Homo sapiens: one gene and its partners. The protein of the gene in region 1 purifies or fractionates together with the protein of each later gene. This does not show direct contact. Each region holds a gene or a part of one and is shown in the gene's direction. Other genes may lie near its edges. The genes, in order: C3orf18, EXOC6, PRORP, SACS, PPP2R5A, SAAL1 and EXOC6B.

Evidence for each region.
Region 2: the proteins of C3orf18 (region 1) and EXOC6 purify together in Homo sapiens (affinity purification with mass spectrometry; one large-scale study listed by BioGRID and IntAct). This does not show direct contact.
Region 3: the proteins of C3orf18 (region 1) and PRORP purify together in Homo sapiens (affinity purification with mass spectrometry; one large-scale study listed by BioGRID and IntAct). This does not show direct contact.
Region 4: the proteins of C3orf18 (region 1) and SACS purify together in Homo sapiens (affinity purification with mass spectrometry; one large-scale study listed by BioGRID and IntAct). This does not show direct contact.
Region 5: the proteins of C3orf18 (region 1) and PPP2R5A purify together in Homo sapiens (co-immunoprecipitation; one large-scale study listed by IntAct). This does not show direct contact.
Region 6: the proteins of C3orf18 (region 1) and SAAL1 purify together in Homo sapiens (co-immunoprecipitation; 2 studies listed by BioGRID and IntAct, with this or other methods). This does not show direct contact.
Region 7: the proteins of C3orf18 (region 1) and EXOC6B purify together in Homo sapiens (co-immunoprecipitation; 2 studies listed by BioGRID and IntAct, with this or other methods). This does not show direct contact.

What each region holds. Positions count from the first base shown.
Region 1 is NC_000003.12:50,557,748-50,561,247, reverse strand, and holds the end of C3orf18 (uncharacterized protein C3orf18), read left to right. Parts: intron 1-183; coding exon 184-331; intron 332-1,510; coding exon 1,511-1,591; 3' UTR 1,592-2,101; coding exon of another isoform or gene 2,102-2,584; 3' UTR 2,585-3,223; downstream 3,224-3,500.
Region 2 is NC_000010.11:92,953,020-92,956,519, forward strand, and holds part of EXOC6 (exocyst complex component 6), read left to right. Parts: intron 1-1,610; coding exon 1,611-1,722; intron 1,723-2,560; coding exon 2,561-2,695; intron 2,696-3,500. UniProt on the Homo sapiens protein: Component of the exocyst complex involved in the docking of exocytic vesicles with fusion sites on the plasma membrane.
Region 3 is NC_000014.9:35,174,552-35,178,051, forward strand, and holds part of PRORP (mitochondrial ribonuclease P catalytic subunit isoform 1 precursor), read left to right. Parts: intron 1-3,500.
Region 4 is NC_000013.11:23,328,330-23,330,516, reverse strand, and holds the end of SACS (sacsin), read left to right. Parts: coding exon 1-381; 3' UTR 382-1,687; downstream 1,688-2,187. UniProt on the Homo sapiens protein: Co-chaperone which acts as a regulator of the Hsp70 chaperone machinery and may be involved in the processing of other ataxia-linked proteins.
Region 5 is NC_000001.11:212,347,910-212,351,409, forward strand, and holds part of PPP2R5A (serine/threonine-protein phosphatase 2A 56 kDa regulatory subunit alpha isoform), read left to right. Parts: intron 1-479; coding exon 480-588; intron 589-1,279; coding exon 1,280-1,333; intron 1,334-3,500. UniProt on the Homo sapiens protein: The B regulatory subunit might modulate substrate selectivity and catalytic activity, and might also direct the localization of the catalytic enzyme to a particular subcellular compartment.
Region 6 is NC_000011.10:18,085,583-18,089,082, reverse strand, and holds part of SAAL1 (protein SAAL1), read left to right. Parts: intron 1-1,857; coding exon 1,858-1,940; intron 1,941-2,028; coding exon 2,029-2,217; intron 2,218-3,500. UniProt on the Homo sapiens protein: Plays a role in promoting the proliferation of synovial fibroblasts in response to pro-inflammatory stimuli.
Region 7 is NC_000002.12:72,182,534-72,186,033, reverse strand, and holds part of EXOC6B (exocyst complex component 6B), read left to right. Parts: intron 1-1,846; coding exon 1,847-1,959; intron 1,960-3,128; coding exon of another isoform or gene 3,129-3,144; exon of another isoform or gene 3,145-3,181; intron 3,182-3,500. UniProt on the Homo sapiens protein: Component of the exocyst complex involved in the docking of exocytic vesicles with fusion sites on the plasma membrane.

The sequences.
Region 1 (3,500 bases):
AAGGGGTTGAGCTGGTACTATAGGTGCAAAAATGTCTGTCATTTTTTCCCATTTCAAGGGAAACCTTAAGGCCCTAAGCATGGTTGTGTGCTGTGGCTCAGCTAGTCAGGAGGCAGGGCCTGGAGGGCTGCTGGGAGGGGAAGGGCCTGCCCTGTCCCCAGCAGCCTTTGCCCCCATCCCCAGGCTGGAGAAGCTACGCCACCAGCTCATGCCCATGTACAACTTCGACCCCACGGAGGAACAAGATGAGTTGGAGCAGGAGCTGCTGGAGCATGGGCGGGACGCCGCCTCTGTACAGGCTGCTACTTCTGTGCAGGCCATGCAGGGCAAGGTGGGCACTGACCAGGCTCCCCACCCCGCCTGCAGCATCCTCTGTCCTCCACCCTCACCCTCCCTCCTTTCTCATGCAGCTTTCTAGCACCTGCCTTGTGGTCAGATGGCAGGTATTGGGTATACGGCTTTTTCCAGATTTGTTCAGAAAGTGGTCATATTGCTCTGGGGCCACCCACAAACTCACAGCGCAAGGCCAGGCCAAGGCAGTCCTGGGATACAGCCTGGCTCTGCCCCATAGCCTGCTGATCTTGGGAGCCCCACTGGCATCTCTGAGCCTCAGTGTTCTCTTCCACAATTGAAAATCCTAATTCTTGCCCCATGTGCCCCCACGTACTGGTTAGGAAAGTAGGAAAGGACTAATGGGAGAGACTGTTGGCGGCTAGGACCCCAGGTTCCTCTGCTTCCTGAGGGTCCGTGGTCCTGAGTGGGTTGTGGATGGGGTTAGACTCTTGGACAGCGGTACCTCTGAGTAGGCTGGTGGATTCCCAGTGGCTGACAGACCCAGGCATGTGAAGATCTCAGCCAAACTTGCCTCCTGTGTCCAAAGGGATAGGTACCTGTGTGGCCATCCTGTTGTAACCACTGGGCTGCCTGACCACTTGCCACCATTTCCCCAAATCCCCAAGGGCCAGAGCACCATGAGCAGGCCTGGCCTGCCCCTGACTTATCCAGCCTCTTTGCGTCTTCTTGGGCTCAGAAAGAATCCAGGCTGGAAGTCTGAAGACCCTTTGGTTTTGCCACCAGCTCTGCATCACCTGGGTCAAGATATATTGCCCCCTTGGGATATTCAGGAACTCGCACTGAGAACCTTGGTCCACCCAGCCACTGGGACTTCTGGCCACTTGATACTTGTTTCCCATGTTCCTCCTTGTACCAGCCCCTGTGCTAGGGCCTGGGGATACAGAGTCCAGCCCTCTGATCCCCCACTGGGAAAAGGCAGTGCATGCATAATTAAATCAACACAGTAAGTGCCTCCAAGGTGACAGGGCAAGCTGGGGAGGAGTCATCTGAGCCAAGTCATATTTGTAGGCTGAGCTTGCAGGGAGGGCATTCCAGGCAGAAGCCATTGCTAGTGCCAAGCATAAGCAGGCACCAGGAAGTGAGGGTGGAGGTGACCAGGCCAGTGAGTGCATGGCCTTGCCCATGGTCTCTGATGCCCCTGCCTGTCTTCCTGCAGACTACTCTGCCCTCCCAGGGCCCACTGCAGAGACCCAGCCGGCTGGTGTTTACCGATGTGGCCAATGCCATCCATGCGTGAGTGGCCTGGGACAAGCCTGGACTTCTGATAGAGACCCATCACGGTGCCTACAGAGCTCCCCACTCCCTGATTGTCAAGACCTACTCTGAAGATCTTCCCTGCCAAGACACAAGAGGGCTGAGCCAGGTCCTAGCTGTTCTCCAGACCCACCTGCTGACTTTAGACTCTAAGAGAGGGCCCTAGCCAGGCTGGACTTCTGACCACTGACTTCTCCTGACCTGAGGGCCCTGGCACAGAGGGCATCCCTCATGCTGAGAAGGTCAAGAGCCTCTGCTGGCTTCCTCATCCCCTGTCCAGATCCCTCACATCAGGGTCTGCCCCGCTAATGTGGAGGAAATGAGGGAGATACGGAGTGGGAGGGATTGGGGGAGGAAAGGGGAGGTTTCCCTCTGTTAGGGAGAGACCTGTTTTTTGGAATCTGGAGCCTCCTCTGGGGTGGGGAGAGGAAACCACCCAAGTTATAGGGACAGGGTAGGGCAGCATCTGTTATGGGCCCTGAGAAGCCCAGAGATGGAGCTGAAACTGTCCAGTATGCAAGGATGCCAGGAGAAGGGCAATTCACACCCAGGGTCCATCCATACTACGGAGGGTCCAGGAGGTCTCCCAGCCACCCATCCTTGGCAACCAGATGTTACTGGGGCCAAGCTAGGATGGGAGCTGAGGGGGAAGGAAGTAGGGGAATGGAAGTGGAAGGATGCAGCCCCCCCAGACCTGCCGAGAGGCCTCATGCATGTGCATGAGTGTGCCCATGGGCAGACATGTGCCTGTCCCAGCACAGCGGGCAGAATGAGATTGTCCACACTGGCCCCACCCTCCAAGTCGACCTCTACCCCATGGTATGTAGTGGAGCATCAGGGTAGGCTATCTTCTCTGCCTTCAATCTTCAGGGACTGCAGGGAAGAGGGAAGCACGCACAGCACGGTTCCTCTCTCCACTGCATTGTTTCACTGGGCTCACCTGCTTCTGAAAACGGCTCCCTGTCTTGGGCTCTAATGAGGATCTGGGGTTGGGAGAGGCTGTTGGTCTGAGGGCAGTAATCACAGGCTGCAGGCTAGAGGGGGCAGTTATGACTGCCTGAAAGTGGGTGAGGGATTGCACTTCAGAAAAACATCTAAAAAACTTAGTCTATGTTTGAATTCCCCACCTCCATCCCATCTATGGGAAGAGCCGTTCAGTGTTTAGAGAGTGGGGAGATGGGTCCCTGCACTTGGCCTCTCCATAAGCCTTGGAGGGTCAGGGCTGATACCAGGGGTCCTGGCAAGCCATTGGGCAGAGACAGACCACAAGAGCAGGGCATTTTTTTACGCTGGGCATACATATGCACACAAGCATGCACAGAGGCATGTCCCGTGCCCAGCCTCTCCACCGTCACTGTCCGCTGCTGGCTGGAGGGGATGCAGGGGTAGTGTATGCAGACCTTCCACTGGGCAAATGCCATGTGTCAGGAGGGAAAGGCCTAGGAAGCCCCCATGGGGAAGGTTCTGGATTTATTCCCTCCTCTAAATGCTATAAATACGTTAGCACTTGAGTCGACTGGAGGCTGCCAGGAATTCAGGATGCATACAGCTGTAATTTAACCCAGAGCAGCTCCACGTGAGAGCATTAAAGATGTAATGAAGATGTTTACATGGAGAGTGTGTGAGCCTGTGACGCTTGGGGTGTGGAACCCTAGGAGGGGCAGGATGGGTGAGGGGCTGTGGGGGGCCTGGGGATAGTTGCTTGGATCACAGCTATGAGGTGGCACCCCAGGTTTCTCTTGAGCCGTCTGAGGAAATGCCTCTGGCCCTGACTTCGAGGTTGCCCTGGGGCTTCATTTCCCAACTGTGGATTGGGGTCCCAAGGCCTGTCACCCCCTAGGGTGGAAAGGTCAACTGGACAGGACCTTGTGAGACCGGAGGAGGAAGGGGGC
Region 2 (3,500 bases), on another chromosome or scaffold:
CCAATAATGGGACTGCTGGGTTGAATGGTAGTTCTTTGTGTTTGTTTTTGTTTTTGCTTTTGTTTTTATTTTGTTTTGAGACAGGAACTCACTCTGTTGCCCAGGCTGGAATGAAGTGGCACAATTATGGCTCACTGCAGCCTCGATCTCCTGGGCTCAAGTGATCCTTCCACCTCAGCCTCCCAAGTAGCTGGAACCACAGGTTCGCGCCACTGCTCTTTGCCAATTTTTGTATTTTTAGTGGAGATGAGGTTGTGCCATGTTGGTCAGGCTGGTTTTGAACTCTTGGCCTCAAGCAATCCACCCACCTCAGCCTCCCAAAGTGCTGAGATTACAGGCACAATCCACTGCGCCTGGCCCACAGATTTTTAAAAGTAGTATTTTAATAAAAAGTAAAAGGATGCAAAAATGTTAGCCTGTATCTAAGGCAGTAGTTCTCAACTGGGGATAATTTTGGTTCTCCTGCCACCACCTCCTCCCCACAAATTTGGCAATGTCTAGAAACATCTTTGGTTGTTACAGTTCAGGGGAGAGGTGCTACTTGAAACTAGTGGATAGAGGCCAAACATCCAAATGTGCAGGACAGTCTCCACGACAAAGAATTATCCACCCTAAAATGTCAATAGTGCCGAGATGGATAATCCATGGTCTACAGACAGTTTAACTGTTGTGATAATGAGGCTGTATCCAAGAAATCATTATTTACTTAAATTGAAGACCGAATGGTTAGGAGAAGAGAATTTGTTTTTTAGTGCTAGCTTAGTAATACTTAGGATGTTAAGAAACATCATATTAAAATTAGTTTAAGGTAATTTATTTCTTTGAAGACTTAAAAAATCAATGAAAATGGATAACTTAGTTATATTAAAAATTAAATTTGTTTATTATATCTAGAAAGAGCTCATATCAGTTTGTATTTTAAAAATAATTTTTAGCTATAGTTGTGTATGAAGTTTCTTTCAAAGTGACTGTCTTTTGGGGCTGGGCGCGGTGCCTGACGTCTGTAATCCCAGCACTTTGGGAGGCCAAGGTGGGAGAATTACTTGAGTCCAGGAGTTTGAGACCAGCCTGGGCAACATAGTGCAACCCTGTTTCTATAAAATATTTGAAACTAGCTGGGCATGGTGGCATGCATCTGTAGTCCCAGCTACTCAGAATGTTGAAGTGTGAGAATTGCTTGGGTCCAGGACTTTGGGGCTACAGTGAGCTATAATTGCACCACTGTACTCCAGCCTGGGTGACAAAGTGAGACCCTGGCTCAAAAACAATAATAAAAATAATAAAACAACAAAGTTACTATCCCATGATGGAGTCGGAATTTAGGAATAATTTTGTTTCCTTATACCAAGTCCTCTATGATTTTTCTGTGGTTGTTAATTGGATAAATTTAAATTATGCCATATATGAATATTCTACTTTATGGAAAATGTCCCTTTTGCAAAGTTAAATTGAAGTTTGTGATTTAATAAATATGGGTCTTTGTAGTTTATTTAAAGATATAAAATAATGATGGGGAAAATTATTTTAGTAAACTGTGTTAAATTATTTAGGATGTTAACTAACCACATTCATTATTTATTAAGTTTAATAATATCAATCTTTGTTTTTAGCTCAACAGAAATAGACGATATGCTTAGAAAATCAACAAATCTGCTGCTGACCAGAACTTTGAGTAGCTGTTTACTGAACCTTATTAGAAAACCTCATATAGGTTTGACAGAGGTAGGTTAAAAAGACACATATAGTGAAATGTTTCATTGTATGAAACAATTATTTTAAATTATTGCTGAACGTCATTCTGTAAAACTAGCTTCCTGTTTTAAATGTATTAATATAAGCAGATTTGTTTTCAAAATAAAAACACCAGTGTAAATTCCAGAAATGTGAGGATCCCAGGCACAGTGGCTCATACCTCTAATCCGAGAGCTTTGGGAGGCCAAGGCAGGAGGATTGTTTGAGGTCAGGAGTTTGAGACCAGCCTGGGCAATATAGTGAGACCCTGTTTCTACAAAAAATGAAGACTATTAGCCAGGCGTGGTAGTGTGCAACTATATTCCTAGCTACTCTGGACTTGAGCCCAGGAGGTTGAGGCTGCAGTGAGTTACAATCATACCACTGCACTACACAGCCTGGGTGACAGCAAGACCCTGTCTCTGGAAGAAAAAATAAAAAAATGAGGGAAAAGGGTTCATATGGGGAATAGTAGATAAAGATGTTAGAATATCTATTTAGATTTCTGATTGCCAGACTACAGGAAAAGTCACAATCCTAATTTTTTACTTGCTAAATGTTTAAGATTTGAAACATACTATGAAAAGTTATTTTAAAATAACTGGTATTTAGACTCTTGGTGTGTGTGTGTGTGTGTGTATATATATATATATATAAATTCATACGCAGTATTTGCAACAGGCTTTTAAAATCAGATAGTTGTATCCTATAATGCTGCAATTATGTAGAAATGGTACAGTTGCTGGAAGTAATAATCCCATTTTTAAAAATTAGGTGATTTTACATACATGTAACCTGTATTTTACTAGATATATCTTGTGTTTTCTAGCTGGTACAAATCATCATAAACACAACACACCTGGAGCAAGCTTGTAAATATCTTGAGGACTTTATAACTAACATTACAAATATTTCCCAAGAAACTGTTCATACTACAAGACTTTATGGACTTTCTACTTTCAAGGTATGTAAAAATTTGACCAAAAGTTTTCATTTCAGTCACTGTAAGCAGACGTTAAGAAATTAAAGACCGTTCTTATATATGCAAGATCTACTATATTCCTAAAAATTAAGAATAGAGGTATTCATTGTCAACAATGAGCAAGTAAATGTCAGTTTCTTTTTGGCACTGTAAACATCTTATTAACATGGAGAAAAGTATACTTATTTTCTACAGTGTATTATGCTTTGTTCATGTTTTGATGATTTATAGTAGTGCTGACTAGGTCTAACTGAATTAATATTTCACAGTTTAAAAATTAATTCTATATGAGTGTTTATTTTTGAAAATTTAAAATGTAAGACAAATTAAAAAAGGATAGATTTGTTTTCCATCCTTGATTGGTTCTGATCTGAAGAAAAATAAATATTATTACATGTCATTGAAGTCCTACCTCTTTTGCGGGTGGAAAGATTTCTGTTTGAATAATATACAGAATATACTGAGGATTAATTAATGGTTGTTTTAGGTAGAATGTAAGATTAAACAATTTCATAAGGTATTTTATTATTTGGAGTCATAGATGAGACACTGGCTTAGTCTAGTGTGTATAAATCCCCTTGAATTGAATATTTTATTAAACTAATGATAAACCATGTACTGATCACTTATCTGTAAAATGGGCTTGCTAATTTAACCTTACAGCTCTTTCTAAAAGTTTCCTATTAAAAAGAATTCTCTTTAACTACTTTTGTTATATTATCAATCACCCCCAAGATTTTATTGTAGTAACTTGCATTGTAAAAAATGAATGTACTTGTGTTTTAAA
Region 3 (3,500 bases), on another chromosome or scaffold:
GATTGGCTGAATCTTTACCTCTCCAAAACAGCCATAGGTAAATAAAAGCCTCTTAATGACAAAAGAGGACCTATACGTTTTACAGCCTTGTTCTTTCAGCACGGTTGTACTGGTAGAGTGGCATACCTAAGGTTCACTCCTCCTTGGCCTACAGAACAGGACTTAGAGATTTTGACAGTTCATTCTTCTTTTTTTTTTCTTTTTTTTTTTTTTATTATACTTTAAGTTCTAGGGTACATGTGCACAATGTGCAGGTTTGTATACATGTGCCATGTTGGTGTGCTGCACCCGTTAACTCGTCATTTACGTTACGTATATCTCCTAGTGCTATCCCTCCCCCCTCCCCCCACCCCACGACAAGCCCTGATGTGTGATGTTCCCCTTCCTATGTCCAAGTGTTCTCATTGTTCAATTCGCACTTATGAATAAGAACACGCGGTGTTTGGTTTTCTGTCCTTGCAATAGTTTGCTCAGAATGATGGTTTCCAGCTTCATCCATGTCCTTACAAAGGACATGAACTCATCCTTTTTTATGGCTGCATAGGATTCCATGGTGTATATGTGCCACATTTTCTTAACCCAGTCTATCATTGATGGACATTTGGGTTGGTTCCAAGTCTTTGCTATTGTGAACAGTGCCGCAATAAACATACATGTGCATGTGTCTTTATAGCAGCATGATTTATAATCCTTTGGGTATATAACCAGTAATGGGATGGCTGGGTCAAATGGTATTTCTAGTTCTAGATCCCTGAGGAATCGCCACACTGTCTTCCACAATGGTTGAACTAGTTTACAGTCCCACCAACAGTGTAAAAGTGTTCTTACTTCTCCACATCCTCTCCAGCACCTGTTGTTTCCTGACTTTTTAATGATCGCCATTCTAACTGGTGTGAGATGGTATCTCATTGTGGTTTTGATTTGCATTTCTCTGATGGCCAGTGATGATGAGCATTTTTTCATGTGTCTGTTGGCTGAATAAATGTCTTCTTTTGAGAAGTGTCTGTTCATGTCCTTTGCCCACTTTTTGATGGGGTTGTTTTTTTTCTTGTAAATTTGTTAGAGTTCTTTGTAGATTCTGGATATTAGCCCTTTGTCAGATGAGTAGATAGCAAAAATTTTCTCCCATTCTGTAGGTTGCCTGTTCACTCTGATGGTAGGTTCTTTTGCTGTGCAGAAGCTCTTGAGTTTAATTAGATCCCATTTGTCAATTTTGGCTTTTGTTGCCATTGCTTTTAGTGTTTTAGACATGAAGTCCTTGCCCATGCCTATGTCCTGAATGGTATTGCCTAGGTTTTCTTCTAGAGTTTTTATGGTTTTAGGTCTAACATTTAAGTCTTTAATCCAACTTGAATTAATTTTTGTATAAGGTGTAAGGAAGGGATCCAGTTTCAGCTTTCTACATATGGCTAGCCAGTTTTCCCAGCACCATTTATTAAATAGGGAATCCTTTCCCCATTGCTTGTTTTTGTCAGGTTTGTCAAAGATCAGATAGTTGTAGATAAGCGGCATTATTTCTGAGGGCTCTGTTCTGTTCCATTGGTCTATATCTCTGTTTTGGTACCAGTACCATGCTGTTTTGGTTACTATAACCTTGTAGTATAGTTTGCAGTCATGTAGCTTGATGCCTCCAGCTTTGTTCTTTTGGCTTAGGATTGTCTTGGCAATGCAGGCTCTTTTTTGGTTCCATATGAACTTTAAAGTAGTTTTTTCCAATTCTGTGAAGAAAGTCATTGGTAGCTTGATGGGGATGGCATTGAATCTATAAATTACCTTGGGCAGTATGGCCATTTTCACAATACTGATTCTTCCTATCCATGAGCATGGAATGTTCTTCCATTTGTTTGTGTCCTTTTTTATTTCGTTGAGCAGTGGTTTGTAGTTCTCCTGGAAGAGGTCCTTCACATCCCTTGTAAGTTGGATTCCTAGGTATTTTATTCTCTTAGTAGCAATTTTGAATGGGAGTTCACTCATGATTTGGCTCTCTGTTTGTCTGTTATTGGTGTGTAAGAATGCTTGTGATTTTTGTACATTGATTTTGTATCCTGAGACTTTGCTGAAGCTGCTTATCAGCTTAAGGAGATTTTGGGCTGAGACAATGGGGTTTTCTAAATATACGATCATGTCATCTGCAAACAGGGACAATTTGACTTCTTCTTTTCCTAATTGAATACCCTTTATTTCTTTCTCCTGCCTGATTGTCCTGGCCAGAACTTCCAACACTATGTTGAATAGAAGTGGTGAGAGAGGGCATCCCTGTCTTGTGCCGGTTTTCAAAGGGAATGCTTCCAGTTTTTGCCCATTCAGTATGACATTGGCTGTGGGTTTGTCATAAATAGCTCTTATTATTTTGAGATACGTCCCATCAATACCTAATTTATTGAGAGTTTTTAGCGTGAAGGGCTGTTGAATTTTGTCAAAGGCCTTTTCTGCATCTATTGAGATAATAGTGTGGTTTTTGTCTTTGGTTCTGTTTATATGCTGGATTACATTTATTGATTTGCGTATGTTGAACCAGCCTTGCATCCCAGGGATGAAGCCCACTTGATCGTGGTGGATAAGCTTTTTGATGTGCTGCTGGATTCAGTTTGCCAGTATTTTATTGAGGATTTTTCCATCGATGTTCATCTGGGATATTGGTCTAAAATTTCTCTTTTTTTGTTGTGTCTCTGCCAGACTTTGGTATCAGGATGATGTTGGCCTCATAAAATGAGTTAGGGAGGATTCCCTCTTTTTCTATTGATTGGAATAGTTTCAGAAGGAATGGTACCAGCTCCTCCTTGTACCTCTGGTAGAATTTGGCTGTGAATCCGTCTGGTCCTGGACTTTTTTTGGTTTGTAGGCTATTAATTATTGCCTCAATTTCAGATCCTGTTATTGGTCTATTCAGAGATTCAACTTCTTCCTGGTTTAGTCTTGGGAGGGTGTATGTGTCCAGGAATTTATCCATTTCTTCTAGATTTTCTAGTTTATTTGCGTAGAGGTGTTTATAGTATTCTCTGATGGTAGTTTGTATTTCTGTGGGATCGGTGGTGATATCCCCTTTATCATTTTTTATTGTGTCTATTTGAGTCTTCTCTCTTTTCTTCTTTATTAGTCTTTCTAGCAGTCTATCAATTTTGTTGATCTTTTCAAAAAACCAGCTCCTAGATTCATTGATTTTTTTGAAGGGTTTTTTGTGTCTCTGTCTCTTTCAGTTCTGCTCTGATCTTAGTTATTTCTTGCCTTCTGCTAGCTTTTGAATGTGTTTGCTCTTGCTTCTCTAGTTCTTTTAATTGTGATGTTAGGGTGTCGATTTTAGATCTTTCCTGCTTTCTCTTGTGGGCATTTAGTGCTATAAATTTCCCTCCACACACTGCTTTAAATGTGTCCCAGAGATTCTGGTATGTTTTGTCTTTGTTCTCATTGGTTTCAAAGAACATCTTTATTTCTGCCTTCATTTCATTATGTACCCAGTATTCATTCAGGAGCAGGTTGTTCAATTTCCATGTAGTTGAGCG
Region 4 (2,187 bases), on another chromosome or scaffold:
GCCAGAGCAAACTTCTCAGCTGCCAGGAATGACCTTCATAAAAATGCCAATGAGTGGGTGTGCTTTAAATGTTACCTTTCTACCAAGTTAGCTTTGATTGCAGCTGACTATGCTGTGAGGGGAAAGTCTGATAAAGATGTAAAACCAACTGCACTTGCTCAGAAAATAGAGGAATATAGTCAGCAACTTGAAGGACTGACAAATGATGTTCACACATTGGAAGCTTATGGTGTAGACAGTTTAAAAACAAGATACCCTGATTTGCTTCCCTTTCCTCAGATCCCAAATGACAGGTTCACTTCTGAGGTTGCTATGAGGGTGATGGAATGTACTGCCTGTATCATAATAAAACTTGAAAATTTTATGCAACAAAAAGTGTGAAGATATTTAACGAAAAAAAAGGTAGATCTTGAATGTGTTGTAGCACGAATAAATTGCTGTACTTCATTAAGCTTCATTGCCAATTAGCTAGGAATTGTTAAGCACATTGCAGATTGTTCTTGGAGAATTCTGGAGTTGTTATGAACATGAATACCAACGGAAAACCTTAACTGAATCTAAAAGAAAACTATTTTGAAGATGGTGGTGAGCTGCAAAATAGCTGGATGGATTTGAATGATTGGGATGATACATCATTGAACTGCACTTTATATAACCAAAGCTTAGCAGTTTGTTAGATAAGAGTCTATGTATGTCTCTGGTTAGGATGAAGTTAATTTTATGTTTTTAACATGGTATTTTTGAAGGAGCTAATGAAACACTGGACATATAATTGGTTTAAACATAAGGGGAATTAAGTCTTTGTAGTCTGTCATTTTTTTAAGTGGATCCTCTTGGATGCGTTATTTTCTCATCAGCTGGCTCTGATCATGAATTTGTTGTAATTTTATGTTGTACTCAGTGCATTTAAGAAATGGTAGAGTATTTTAATCCTATTACTTGACTAAGAGTGTGAAGGTAGTACTTTTTAGAGTGCACTGAGTGCACTTTACATCTTTATTTAAATTTTTTTTTAACATCTTATGTTTACAGGCTTCCTGTTTGATGAAGATAGCAACGGAAAACTCAAAATGGTGGCAGTTCTTATTACCAGTTGTTAGTATTGTTTCTGGAAACTGCTTGCCAAGACAACATTTATTAACTGTTAGAACACTTGCTTTATGTTTGTGTGTACATATTTTCCACAAATGTTATAATTTATATAGTGTGGTTGAACAGGATGCAATCTTTTGTTGTCTAAAGGTGCTGCAGTTAAAAAAAAAACAACCTTTTCTTTCAATATGGCATGTAGTGGAGTTTTTTTAACTTTAAAAACATCAAAAATTGTTAAAATCATTGTGTTATCTAGTAGTTTATAATTATCGGCTTATATTTCCCCATGAATGATCAGAACTGACATTTAATTCATGTTTGTCTCGCCATGCTTCTTTACTTTAACATATTTCTTTTGCAGAATGTAAAAGGTAATGATAATTAGTTTATATAAGTGTACTGGCTGTAAATGATGCTAAATATACTTTATGCAATTAAGGGCTTACAGAACATGTTGAAACTTTTTTTACTTTTATTGGGAATAAGGAATGTTTGCACCTCCACATTTTATTGCTTCTGGATGTGAAATCATGTAATTATTTCTGCTGTTATATAAAGTGCCATACTTTTAATAAAGGAAAATGTACATATGAAATCATCGTAATGGGTGTTTCCTGAGAAATAGTTCATTGGAAATCAAACTTAACATCTTAATATTAAGTTTTAATGTGTGTGTATGTGTGTATTTATTGGAAATATTAGGAAAATATTTTCCTGTATATTTTCATGCTGGAATTATAGATTTTTAGGATTAATAGAATATGAAGTGCTTGTTATATACTAGGTTTAGGTGCTCATTGATTTAGTTGAGTTTATGTCACCTTTTTAGGGAATCAGATTAGCTGATATATGTGGTATATATGTGTTTGGAAACAGATACATTAAATATTTTTTTCCTCTAGGTAGAGCTGAATTGATATTTCCATTGCCTCAGGGACAGCTGCATGTCTGGGACTAATTCACACTTTATTACTGACAGATAGGAGTTCTTCATCTTTATAGTTGAGGCACAAGTCTTCAGAGTTAGGCAGATGAGGGCTAAGAGTGCTCTCTGTTCTGGAGCTACCTGAATTCTGTGCCTTCAGCTTTATTTAA
Region 5 (3,500 bases), on another chromosome or scaffold:
TTAAGAGAATTTTAGACCCTTCTGTTACTATTTAGACAATGATTTTAGTTTCCTTTATTAATAGTAGAAAATGATTGTGGAGAGAACTACTTCTTTCACGTTATCCAACAAAGTAAGAAAAATTACCCATTTACTTCAGAAAAATATTGAACATTCTAACAATATTGTGGTACTGACTCTCCTGGAGCTTTGGGGGCAAAAATAAAAGCAACAATGCATAAAGTGACAGGTTTGATAGAAAATGAAGATAGAAATTACTTGGGAATTAATTGACAGTCCTAATTTTCTTTTGGAATCATCAAATGACTTAGAGGAACAGACTTCATAGTAATAGTCTTCCTAAAGTAGTTTGAAGATGAGCAGTCATACAACACCAGGATTGAAGCATAGCACTGTTCCTTATGTACTCATGGATATGACAGCTTTTAGAAACAAAGTAGTAACTACTTAACCCTTCCCCTGCCTTTTTTTCCCTCCAGTATTATCAATGGCTTTGCATTGCCACTGAAAGCAGAACATAAACAATTTCTAATGAAGGTTCTTATTCCTATGCATACTGCAAAAGGATTAGCTTTGTTTCATGCTCAGGTAAGTTTCAGAAACATTTCAGATGAAATGAATATTATTTCAAAGGCCAATATAAAGGCAGAGAAATTGAGAAATACTGAGATGACAGTTTTAAGTATAATTAAGCAATTTGCTTACAAAATTACCCAAAGCAAATTTTTCTTATTTTAAAGTATTTAGTTGTTAAGTAAGACCAATTATTTAATTTCTATATCTACACTTACAGTTTAAGATACACACTTTCCTCATATTATAGTCCAGGTCTTGACCTAATTATGTGACTTTGAATAAATCCCACATATCTACAGAATGTTTCTTCCAGCTGCAATAACCTAGACCTAGTTAGAGAGATTTTGGTCTCTTCTATTAATATTTAGAGAATAATATATCAGCATAGGTGTACATGTAGAAACATGCTGAAAAACTAAATTGTTAGCTCTAGTCTTATTTCAGTTAACTTTATAGTCAGAAATTACTACTAAAAATGTTTTTTAAACTTGAAGTTACTTTCAAGGCTAAAAAGTTACACAATTGTGAGTATAGTTTCACGATTGAGGTATTTCACAATTTCATTCACAGTTGTGAGTATATTTTTATATATTGGAATAATTTATCAAAATGAGGTAGTCTAAAAAATATTGGCTAAATATAAAAATCCTACATTATTAAATGTTATCTCACTAATATTTATAAACTGTCCCTTACCTTTTAGCTAGCATATTGTGTTGTACAGTTCCTGGAGAAAGATACAACACTAACAGAGCCAGTAAGTGTTCTATTTATTTTCATGTTTTTGGTCTGCATTAATAGCATTTCATTGTAGCTTTCGTTTTATAGCCTTTATAGTTATTAAGTAGAATAATGTACGTTAAGCTAAAATCATTTAGAAGAAGAAATGTGAGATTAATCTACATTAAAAGAAGGGGTTAGGAGGGGAGAGTTCTCGTGAGTTATGTCTTGAATAACCGAAATATAGACTACTATTAATATGTAGTAGTTAAGATGTACGATGATAGGATCAGATGACCACAGTGAAATTTTATATGCATACTGTCTTCACCAATAATCTTTTAAATCTTCATTCACCTTTTGGAATTAAAGCATACTTCGAGGGTCCCAAAACTACTACTCCCTTGAATTTTGTTTTGTTTTTAATAATAGAATTTTTGCCACTCATTAACAATAAACCACTTGATAGGGATAGAAAACATTTCCTTGCTTTTGGTGATTAAGATATAAGATGTAATCTTGGAATAAAAGTAGTTTATGAACCAGCAAGGCAACTTAGGCTTTGAATTCTACTGTTATTTGCCTCTAGAATGAAAATTCAGGAGAGAGTGAAAACATAATTAGTTATGAAAATTTACTGAGGATTCAAGAAAAACAAAAGATGAAGTAGGGTGAAACAGAAAAGTATAAAAGCATAGAAAACATTTTAACCTTGGTGAAGTAAGTATTTTGAGAGAATGCTTTCTAGGCATGTTCAGTCTAAATATTTACCTAGTATTAGGTTGGTACAAAAGTGATTGCGGCTTTTGCCATTACTTTTAATGGCAAAAACCACAATCACTTTAGCAGCAACCTAATAAATATTTAGTAAATAGCAAAGGGTTTGAAAAACTAAAATATATATGTATTTTTACTATATTATGAACCTTCTCAGGCTATCCGTAGGGATGCTTGAAAAAATCATATACTTAGTATTCTCCCTTTCACTTGAACTTTGTGTAATGGAACAAAAGACATTTTTCCACTCCTTAATTTTTATTAGTTTTTTGACTTTTAGATTTACAGTCTTTTCTAGAAACAGCTGTAAACAGTTTTTGAAGACAATTCAGGAGAATTAGAAACCATATATTTGTACATGAAACCACATAAACCTCTGAAGTTGATTCCCAGGTGTGCAGTGGCTCACAACTGTAATCCCAGCACTTTGGGAGGCTGAGGCAGGCAGATAACTTGAGGCCAGGAGTTTGAGACCAGCCTGGCCAACATGGTGAAACCCTGTCTCTAGTTAAAATACAAAAATTAGCTGGGCATGGTGGCACAGGCCTGTGGTCCCAGCTACTCAGATGGCAAGGGCACAAGAATTGCTTGAATCCAGGAGGCGTAGGTTGCAGTGATCTGAGCTCATACCAGTGCACTCCAGCCTGGGCAACAGAGTGAGACTCTGTCTTCAAAAAAAAAAAGAAAAAAGTAAAACCTTAATACAAATCTATGATAACTCCCATTAGAATTAAGAAAAAGAAAACCCATAATAACACATATTGAAAAGTCATGGTTCATGCTTGGTAAATAGTATACAAATAAAATTTTATTTAATTAATTTGGGGTGGATAAGGAAGACAGGTGATTTATTTTTAAAGAATGGAAGATAGAGGCTGGGCATGGTGGTTCATGCCTGTAATCCCAGCACTTTGGGAGGCCGAGGCAGGCGGATCACCTCAGGTCAGGAGTTCAAGATCAGCCTGATCAACATGGTGAAACCCCATTTCTACTTAAAAAAAAAAAAAAAAAATTAGCTGGGCATGGTGGCGTGTGCCTGTAATCTCAGCTACTAGGGAGGCCGAGGCACAAGAATCACTTGAACCCTGGAGGCGGAGGTTACAGTGAGCCGAGATGACACAAAAAAAAAAACAAAAAAACAAAAAACCTTGACGATTAGGGAGAGGGATGATGGCCAGTTATTCAGCTTTTATCTGGTTTGGCTGAGTTGGGTTAATGAAAATAGGAGCAGGATGAGGAGAGAGAGTAAGATAAATACCCAGGTTAAGAAAGGAAAATATTTTCCAACTCATAAAGATCTCTCGATATAGAGATCTTGCAATTTCTAACATAGGCCATTCCAGCACCAAAATTACGGCCATATTACTTGGGTTTAAGCCTTAATACTAATTTTCTGGAAAGCAGGCATTCCTATCAAAGCTTTCTAC
Region 6 (3,500 bases), on another chromosome or scaffold:
AATTTAAATCAAAGAGAAAACATTTTCTTGTGCTTTATTTTACATTGAACATTTAACAACTTCATTAACGTTGCACATCATTTGCTTTTTTTTGCTCCTTGTGTTTATATGCCAGTCTTCAATAAGTGACCGATGTTGGGACTCTGATGTCTTGCCAAGAGTGATTACTAAGCCTTACAGGTCATTAAAACTGTTTATTGCTAATCACTAGAAAATTAATTTTTAAATTGATCTGCTTAGTGTTTTTCTTAGTGCATTCTTAGTGCTGAGTAAGCCACATCAAAACCTATTAATTTTGTGTCCTTTATCCAAGTGAGGGATAAATTCATCATCTTTCCCTAAACCTGCTTCATCAGTATTCTCAATCTCAGTAAATGATGTAATCATTATCCTATTTGGATAATGTAGAAGAAATGGAGAAGCCAATTACTGAATCTTTCCTGCCCCAGTATTTTCCCATTGCAGTCAACTCCCAACCCTTATTCCTGACATTTTCTGGGATTCCATCCATGCCAATCAAGCCATTATTGTTTCTCATCTGGAGAACTGCCACATTCTTTTACTTGAATTCCCTGCCTCTATGCTTGCTCTTCCCAAGCCTAGACTTTAAAGCTGTTTTTGCAAAGTACGCACTCATTTCACTCTCATGCTTCGGTCTTTTCAGTTGCCTTCCTTAGGATAAGGTCCAGAAAAACAAACAAACAAACACAGCTTGGGTACTACATACATCACCTGGGTGATGGGACCATCCATATTCCCAAACCTCAGCATCATGCATGTAACAACCCCCAACATGTACCTTCTGAATCCAAAATATAAATAAATAAAATAGGGGAAAAAAGAATGAAATAAATGAAAAATTCTCAAAAAAATAAAGTACAGCTTATGGACCCAGTAGCGCTATCCTTATTCCTTGTACTCTGCGTTTCAGTCATGTGAAGTTTGCGTCACTTCTTCAACTGAACCAGGCTGTCTTGTCTCCAGGCCCTTGCACAGTATGTTTCCTCCACCTCAGACACTTCTTTGCCCCTTCATGTTTCTGTGTAAACATCATTTTTCTTAAGATACCTTCCCTGACCCTGCAAACTAAGTCTCCTTGCTTTGTGAAGTTCCTAGCCCATAGTGCTACATTAGTACCACTTTATTGTAATTACCCCACTTGGAATCTTCTTTCCTTTTAGAGTATAAAGTTTATGAAGGTAGGGATAACATCTTATACATCTGTTTTCTCAACTCCTAACATAGTGCCTGAAATTTGTAAGTACTTAAATAAACATTTGCCAAACCATTGTTTTAATTGTTCACTGTCTTTTCACTTGTTTGGTTGAAGAACTAAGATTTTGAGTTTCCAAACTATTTAGATTTTTGAGAATCCAAACGGTTGATCATAAGAATTAGACTTACATGGTTTTAGTGTTCTCAGCTAGGGAGCTAGGTTAATCCTGAGACATTTTCAGAACATCATTATTGTTGATGCGTGATGCAGCGGACCTTAACGTTCATACTATAAAAATCGCAGTCTTTTTTTGTTCTGATTATTCAAGCAAACCAAAATGATAAAGTATCAACTGGTAGGTTTCTGCGTTGTTGCTTTTATGAGATAGAGCCAAAAAGTTTTTTTACTTCTTGTCCTGTGTGTGTTGATTATATTATATAATATTTGTTTATTTTTTGCTGTTTCCCCTATTAGAATATAAAAGCTCTAACGAACACAGAGACTTCGTTCCTTTCCTTGTTTTATCCTCAGCACCTTGAACAGTGGCTGGCAGAGTAATAAATATTTATTGAATGGAGGAATGATTGGAATCCCCTGGACAGTAAAGTTGTTGATTCAGTGCTTTTACTTTTCCTATTTAGTTCTGAAAATCCAGAATGGCTTGATGTTTACATGCACATTTTACAACTGCTTACTACAGTGGATGATGGAATTCAAGCAATTGGTAAGGTGGTTTATCGGGATGCACTACAGTTACTCATTTAATTGTTTGCTGATTTTAAAGTACTGCTTTATTTGTCCTCTTTATTAAGTACATTGTCCTGACACTGGAAAAGACATTTGGAATTTACTTTTTGACCTGGTCTGCCATGAATTCTGCCAGTCTGATGATCCACCCATCATTCTTCAAGAACAGAAAACAGTGCTAGCCTCTGTTTTTTCAGTGTTGTCTGCCATCTATGCCTCACAGACTGAGCAAGAGTATCTAAAGATAGAAAAAGGCAAGTACAGTTTCCCAGGCTCATACTGTTTTTCATTTCATTTATTTCTCCCTTTTAAAAAATGCTTTCATTTCCCTAATTATAAAAACATTACATGCTAAACTTCAAAAATTTATTTTATTATCATATTTATTTATTTTATTTTTTATTGATTTTTATTTTTTGGAAACAGAGTCTTGCTGTGTTGCACAGGCTGGAGTGCAGTGGTACAATCTTGGCTCAGTGTAACCTCTGCCTCCTGGGTTCAAGTGATTCTCGTGCCTCAGCCTCCCAAGTACCTGGGATTACAGGCGCACACCACTATGCCCAGCTAATTTTTGTATTTTTTCAGTAGAGACGGGTTTTTACCGTGTTGGCCAGGCTGGGCTCGAACTCCCGACCTCAGGTGATCCACCCACCTCGGCCTCCCAAAGTGCTGGGATTACAGGCGTGAGCCACCCCACCTGGCCTGTTTACTTATTTTAAAGCCAGAGTCTTATTTTGTTGCCCAGGCTGTAGTGCAGTGGCAGGATCATAGCTCACTGCAACCTTGAATTCCTGGGCTCAGGTGATTGTCTCACCTCAGCCTCCTGAGTAGCTGGGACTACAGGCACATGACGCCACACCTGGCTAGTTTTTAAATATTTATAGAGACAGGGTCTCACAATCTTGCCCAGGCTTGTCACAAACTCCTGGGCTCAAATGACCTTCCTGCCTTGCCTTCCAGAGTGCTGGGATTACAGGCATGAGCCACTGCACCCTGCCGAAAAATTTATAAAAAATATCAAGGAAACATGATGTTTGTAATCTTACCATCCCACACATGCACATATATTTAATTCTGCTTTTTAGCCAACATTTCATTTAGAAATATAAAATGAATATTTTCCTATATAAACACATATTCTTTCACAGAATTGTTTTTATGACCACAATTAAATTCATGATTCATTTAGAATTTATTCTCGTGTCACATGTGAAGTGTGGCTTTAATTTTTTTTCCCCCTTTGATAACTTTGGTTCTAGTGGTATCAGTTTTTTCCCAGAGGGCTACCCAGTTATCTCAACATCATTTAGTGAATAATCCAGCTTACCCACACTGATTTGAAATTTCATCATTATTTTTAAAATTCCCCTATATATTCTGTTCAGTTCCATTGCTGTATTCATATATTAGTAGCCATAGTGTTTTTAAATATTAAGGTTTTATGTTTTAATACCTAATAAGGCAAATTCCTCTTCATTCTAAGTTTTCAGAATGTTTTTAACTATTTTTATCACTAACTTTGAGTTCCAAAAACAAA
Region 7 (3,500 bases), on another chromosome or scaffold:
TCATTCTCAGCAAACTATCTATCGCAAGGACAAAAACCAAACACCTCATGTTCTCACTCATAGGTGGGAATTGAACAATGAGAACACATGGACACAGGAAGGGGAACATCACACACCGGGGCCTGTCGTGGGGTTGGGGGGAGGGGGAGGGATAGCATTAGGAGATATACATAATGTAAATGACGAGTTAATGGGTGCAGCACACCAACATGGCACATGTATACATATGTAACAAACCTGCACGTTGTGCACATGTACCCTAGAACTTAAAGTATAATTAAAAAAAAAAAAAAGAAAGAAATACTGATACTAGAGTAGAAAGTCAAGGGAAATTCTCTTCTAAAGGATAACTCTCTGAGGCCTTGGGTCAACAGAAGGAAGTGGTAGAAGCCTTTTAACTTGCTAATGAAAATAGGCATGACCTGAAAATGGCCTGAGGGGCCGTTTGGGACCATCCTGGCCCAGACCAACCAGTGTGCCTGTCTCTCCCCCACTCCTTCTCTCATCTCTAAAATCCCTTTCTTGGCTGAGGGTATAGGGACTTTTCTAAGTTTTAGGTTTGGGACTTCAGCCAATTCCCATCCTGCTTCAGGAAGTTCATAACAGCTATTCTAAGAAACTGGATGAAGTGGAGACTTGGCCAAACAGGGCAAGGCCCATACTGCCTGTTTGCCCAGCTGCACAGTGAAGACAGACATGGAGGAAGGTGTGCCTAGAGCCCAGGCTCTGGCATTGGATATGACTGCACTCTTGGCCCTCTGCCTTTGTTCTGCACAACCAGCCATCTACTTGTCCTCATCAGCACTTACCTATCTCCTGGAAAGGGAGAAATGGAGAATGTCTTGAGTCAAAAAGTACTGTGAGGGTTCTCCCTCTATGCAGTGATATGAGTCTGGGACTGTGCCCCTTCTAGAAGCTTTTATTTGTTTGTTTTACTTAGTTACAATTTTTGAATATTTGTTAGTGTGATGTCTGAGGCTAAAACTGACTGGGAAGGAAAGCCTTTGACAAAAGTTTAGTTTCTCTCAGTCAAAATCTCCCGTGTCAGAACTCAGCTCACCCTCAGAAAGCTCTCATTGTCTTTTCACACATCTAGCTCTTGGCACTTCTCTTTAACACTCATAACCCAATTCTAGCTAGACTCTGTGTCCTCAATCATGGGCTAATCTACTATGGCCCTGATTTCATCTTCTTAGCCTGTGTCTGCATAGACGTAACACATATTGCCTCTTATAAATGCTACATGATCCATTTATGCCTTGTTTCAGTGTTTCTGTGTTATCTGTGTGTCCTATTTGTATATAGGCATGTGTATATGTCTGTATTACCTAAGTCACTTGGGCTAAGTCAGTACAGCAAGTCACAGAACTGATACTTGAACCCAGACCTTTTAACCTTGAAGTTCAAACAATTGTATATGTGGCACTGGACTACATCCACCTTTATTTGTTCTTTGTTGAATACTGAGAATGGTTCTTGGCATGTTGAAGGCATTTGATAAGTATTTATTAAATGAGTAAGTGAATAATTATTATGATATTATTATCATATTTGATTCAGTCCCGTGTTAGTTTCTTTACAGGGTTGCCTCTGAGAGCTGACTGCTGGCATATAGTCTTAGCAATGTTTCCATACTGCTTATGGCAGAGATAAGTCTGCCATCTAATGTTTACTCACTTATTTTCTTGGTTGAAAGAATAGTCTGCAGCTGTTCTTTTTCTTATTATATTTTAATTTTTATATATCCAATTTATTAGCTGGTAGTGAAGGATGATGAAGTTTCTGGAATCTTGGTTTGTCTTGTCTGTCTGACTAATCCCTGGGGTGGGGTTTGGATATTTTACAGCTTTTGGATCTTTTCATCCAGTGGGATTGGTCAACCTACCTTGCTGACTATGGTCAGCCCAACTGCAAGTACCTCCGGGTAAACCCAGTGACTGCTCTGACCCTGCTTGAGAAGTGAGTACCTTGTCCAATGGTCTGTGTTGGGAGGTGGGGAGACAGGGATTGGGGGTTGGCGTAGAAGATAATTTTGCCACTGCCAATACCTTGAAAGATAGCCTTGTTCTGGAAGTTGCCATAGGCCCTGGGTGCTGTCAGCAATCTCAGTCACTGGACTTGGCAGGCCAGTCTTCCTCCTGTGGCTTATTAATTCCTGAGCCCCCAACAAGCCAGGCCAAGTATGGATCAGAATTGGATTCTGACATTACCTTCTAGTTTAATGGGTCTCTTACTAGCGTCTCTTACTAGATATGGCAAGAGAAAAAAAAATGGCTCGGTTTGGGGCTCAGGCCAGCCTGGTGAACAGAATGAGGCTGCCCTAGTCACCTGGGGTATGATGATGGATAGTGCAACTCCACAGAACAGATGGTTTCTCTGGTTCCTAGTAGAGAATCCCTGGAAATTATTTAGAATTATTGAAACCTTCATCTGTTCCCAGCTCCCACCCCCTGCCAGACTGAGCTTTATTGTGCTGACTATCCCAACAAAGCTGTGTTGGAGAAGGTGTCTAATTCTTGCCTTAAGCAGTCACTAGCCTGCAGAGGGTTCCCTGCCACAGAGCTGTAGCCTCTCTGAAGCAGAGGTGCTACCACTGAAAGTAAGTTAGGCAGCTCCAGGAAATCTCAGGGCTAACAAATATGTCACCCAGAAGCTGGGAAATGCTATGTATTACAGCCTGGCTCTGGCTTTGCTAATCTATTAGAGAGCTGGCAGGTCAGAGACCAAGACCCATATAAAAAGGCAGGTTTCTCTTGAAATCTGAGAAACTAGTTAAGCCCCAGCTACTTGGAAGAATGCCCTGCATCTAGGCAGTGTAGGAAGTCTACATATATGGCCAGTCAACCATGTCTCAAATCCTAGGAAGACAAGGCTCAGAGTCCAGGAAGTCAGAGTGGAGCCTTAAGCAGAAGGAGAGGTCAAAGTCTATCCTTCTTACTATGTAATATGAAAGGGGGAGAAAAGGGGAAGAGATGAAGGGTAGGCAAGAGCATGATGCAGGTGTATGTATTTGGAGCCAAGAGACTAAAAACTCAGACTGCAGTTTTCTCCTGACCACGTCAGAGATTGATGTTTCCATTTTAACTTTGTTTCCCATGGTTCTCTCTCCCACTGACCTTCCGCCCTAGGATATCTAGAGAGTAAGTATATTATTCACTTGGGCCTTTTCCATCACTTTGAGGCAAGTCCTTCTGGTTTCCTCATTGACACTAATGACTACACTAAAATCCCTAGCCTCTGAGTTGTCCCCGCCCTGACATACTAATCTACTAAACCAGCCTGGTGCCAACTGGCTGGCTGCCTTCTCTATCCTTGGCCCTTACAGTGACCCTTGGCTTACTAATTCCTTTGGGGCTGGGAGTGGCGGCAGGGATTTTCTCCCATTGTGCCAGGTAAAGGGTTGTTCCCATTCAGCTTCTTGGCACACTCAATACTCTTGCTAGTGTGGGGCCTGAAATAAAGCCCTGACCGAAGGGAGCTCCTCAGCAGCCTCCCCTACC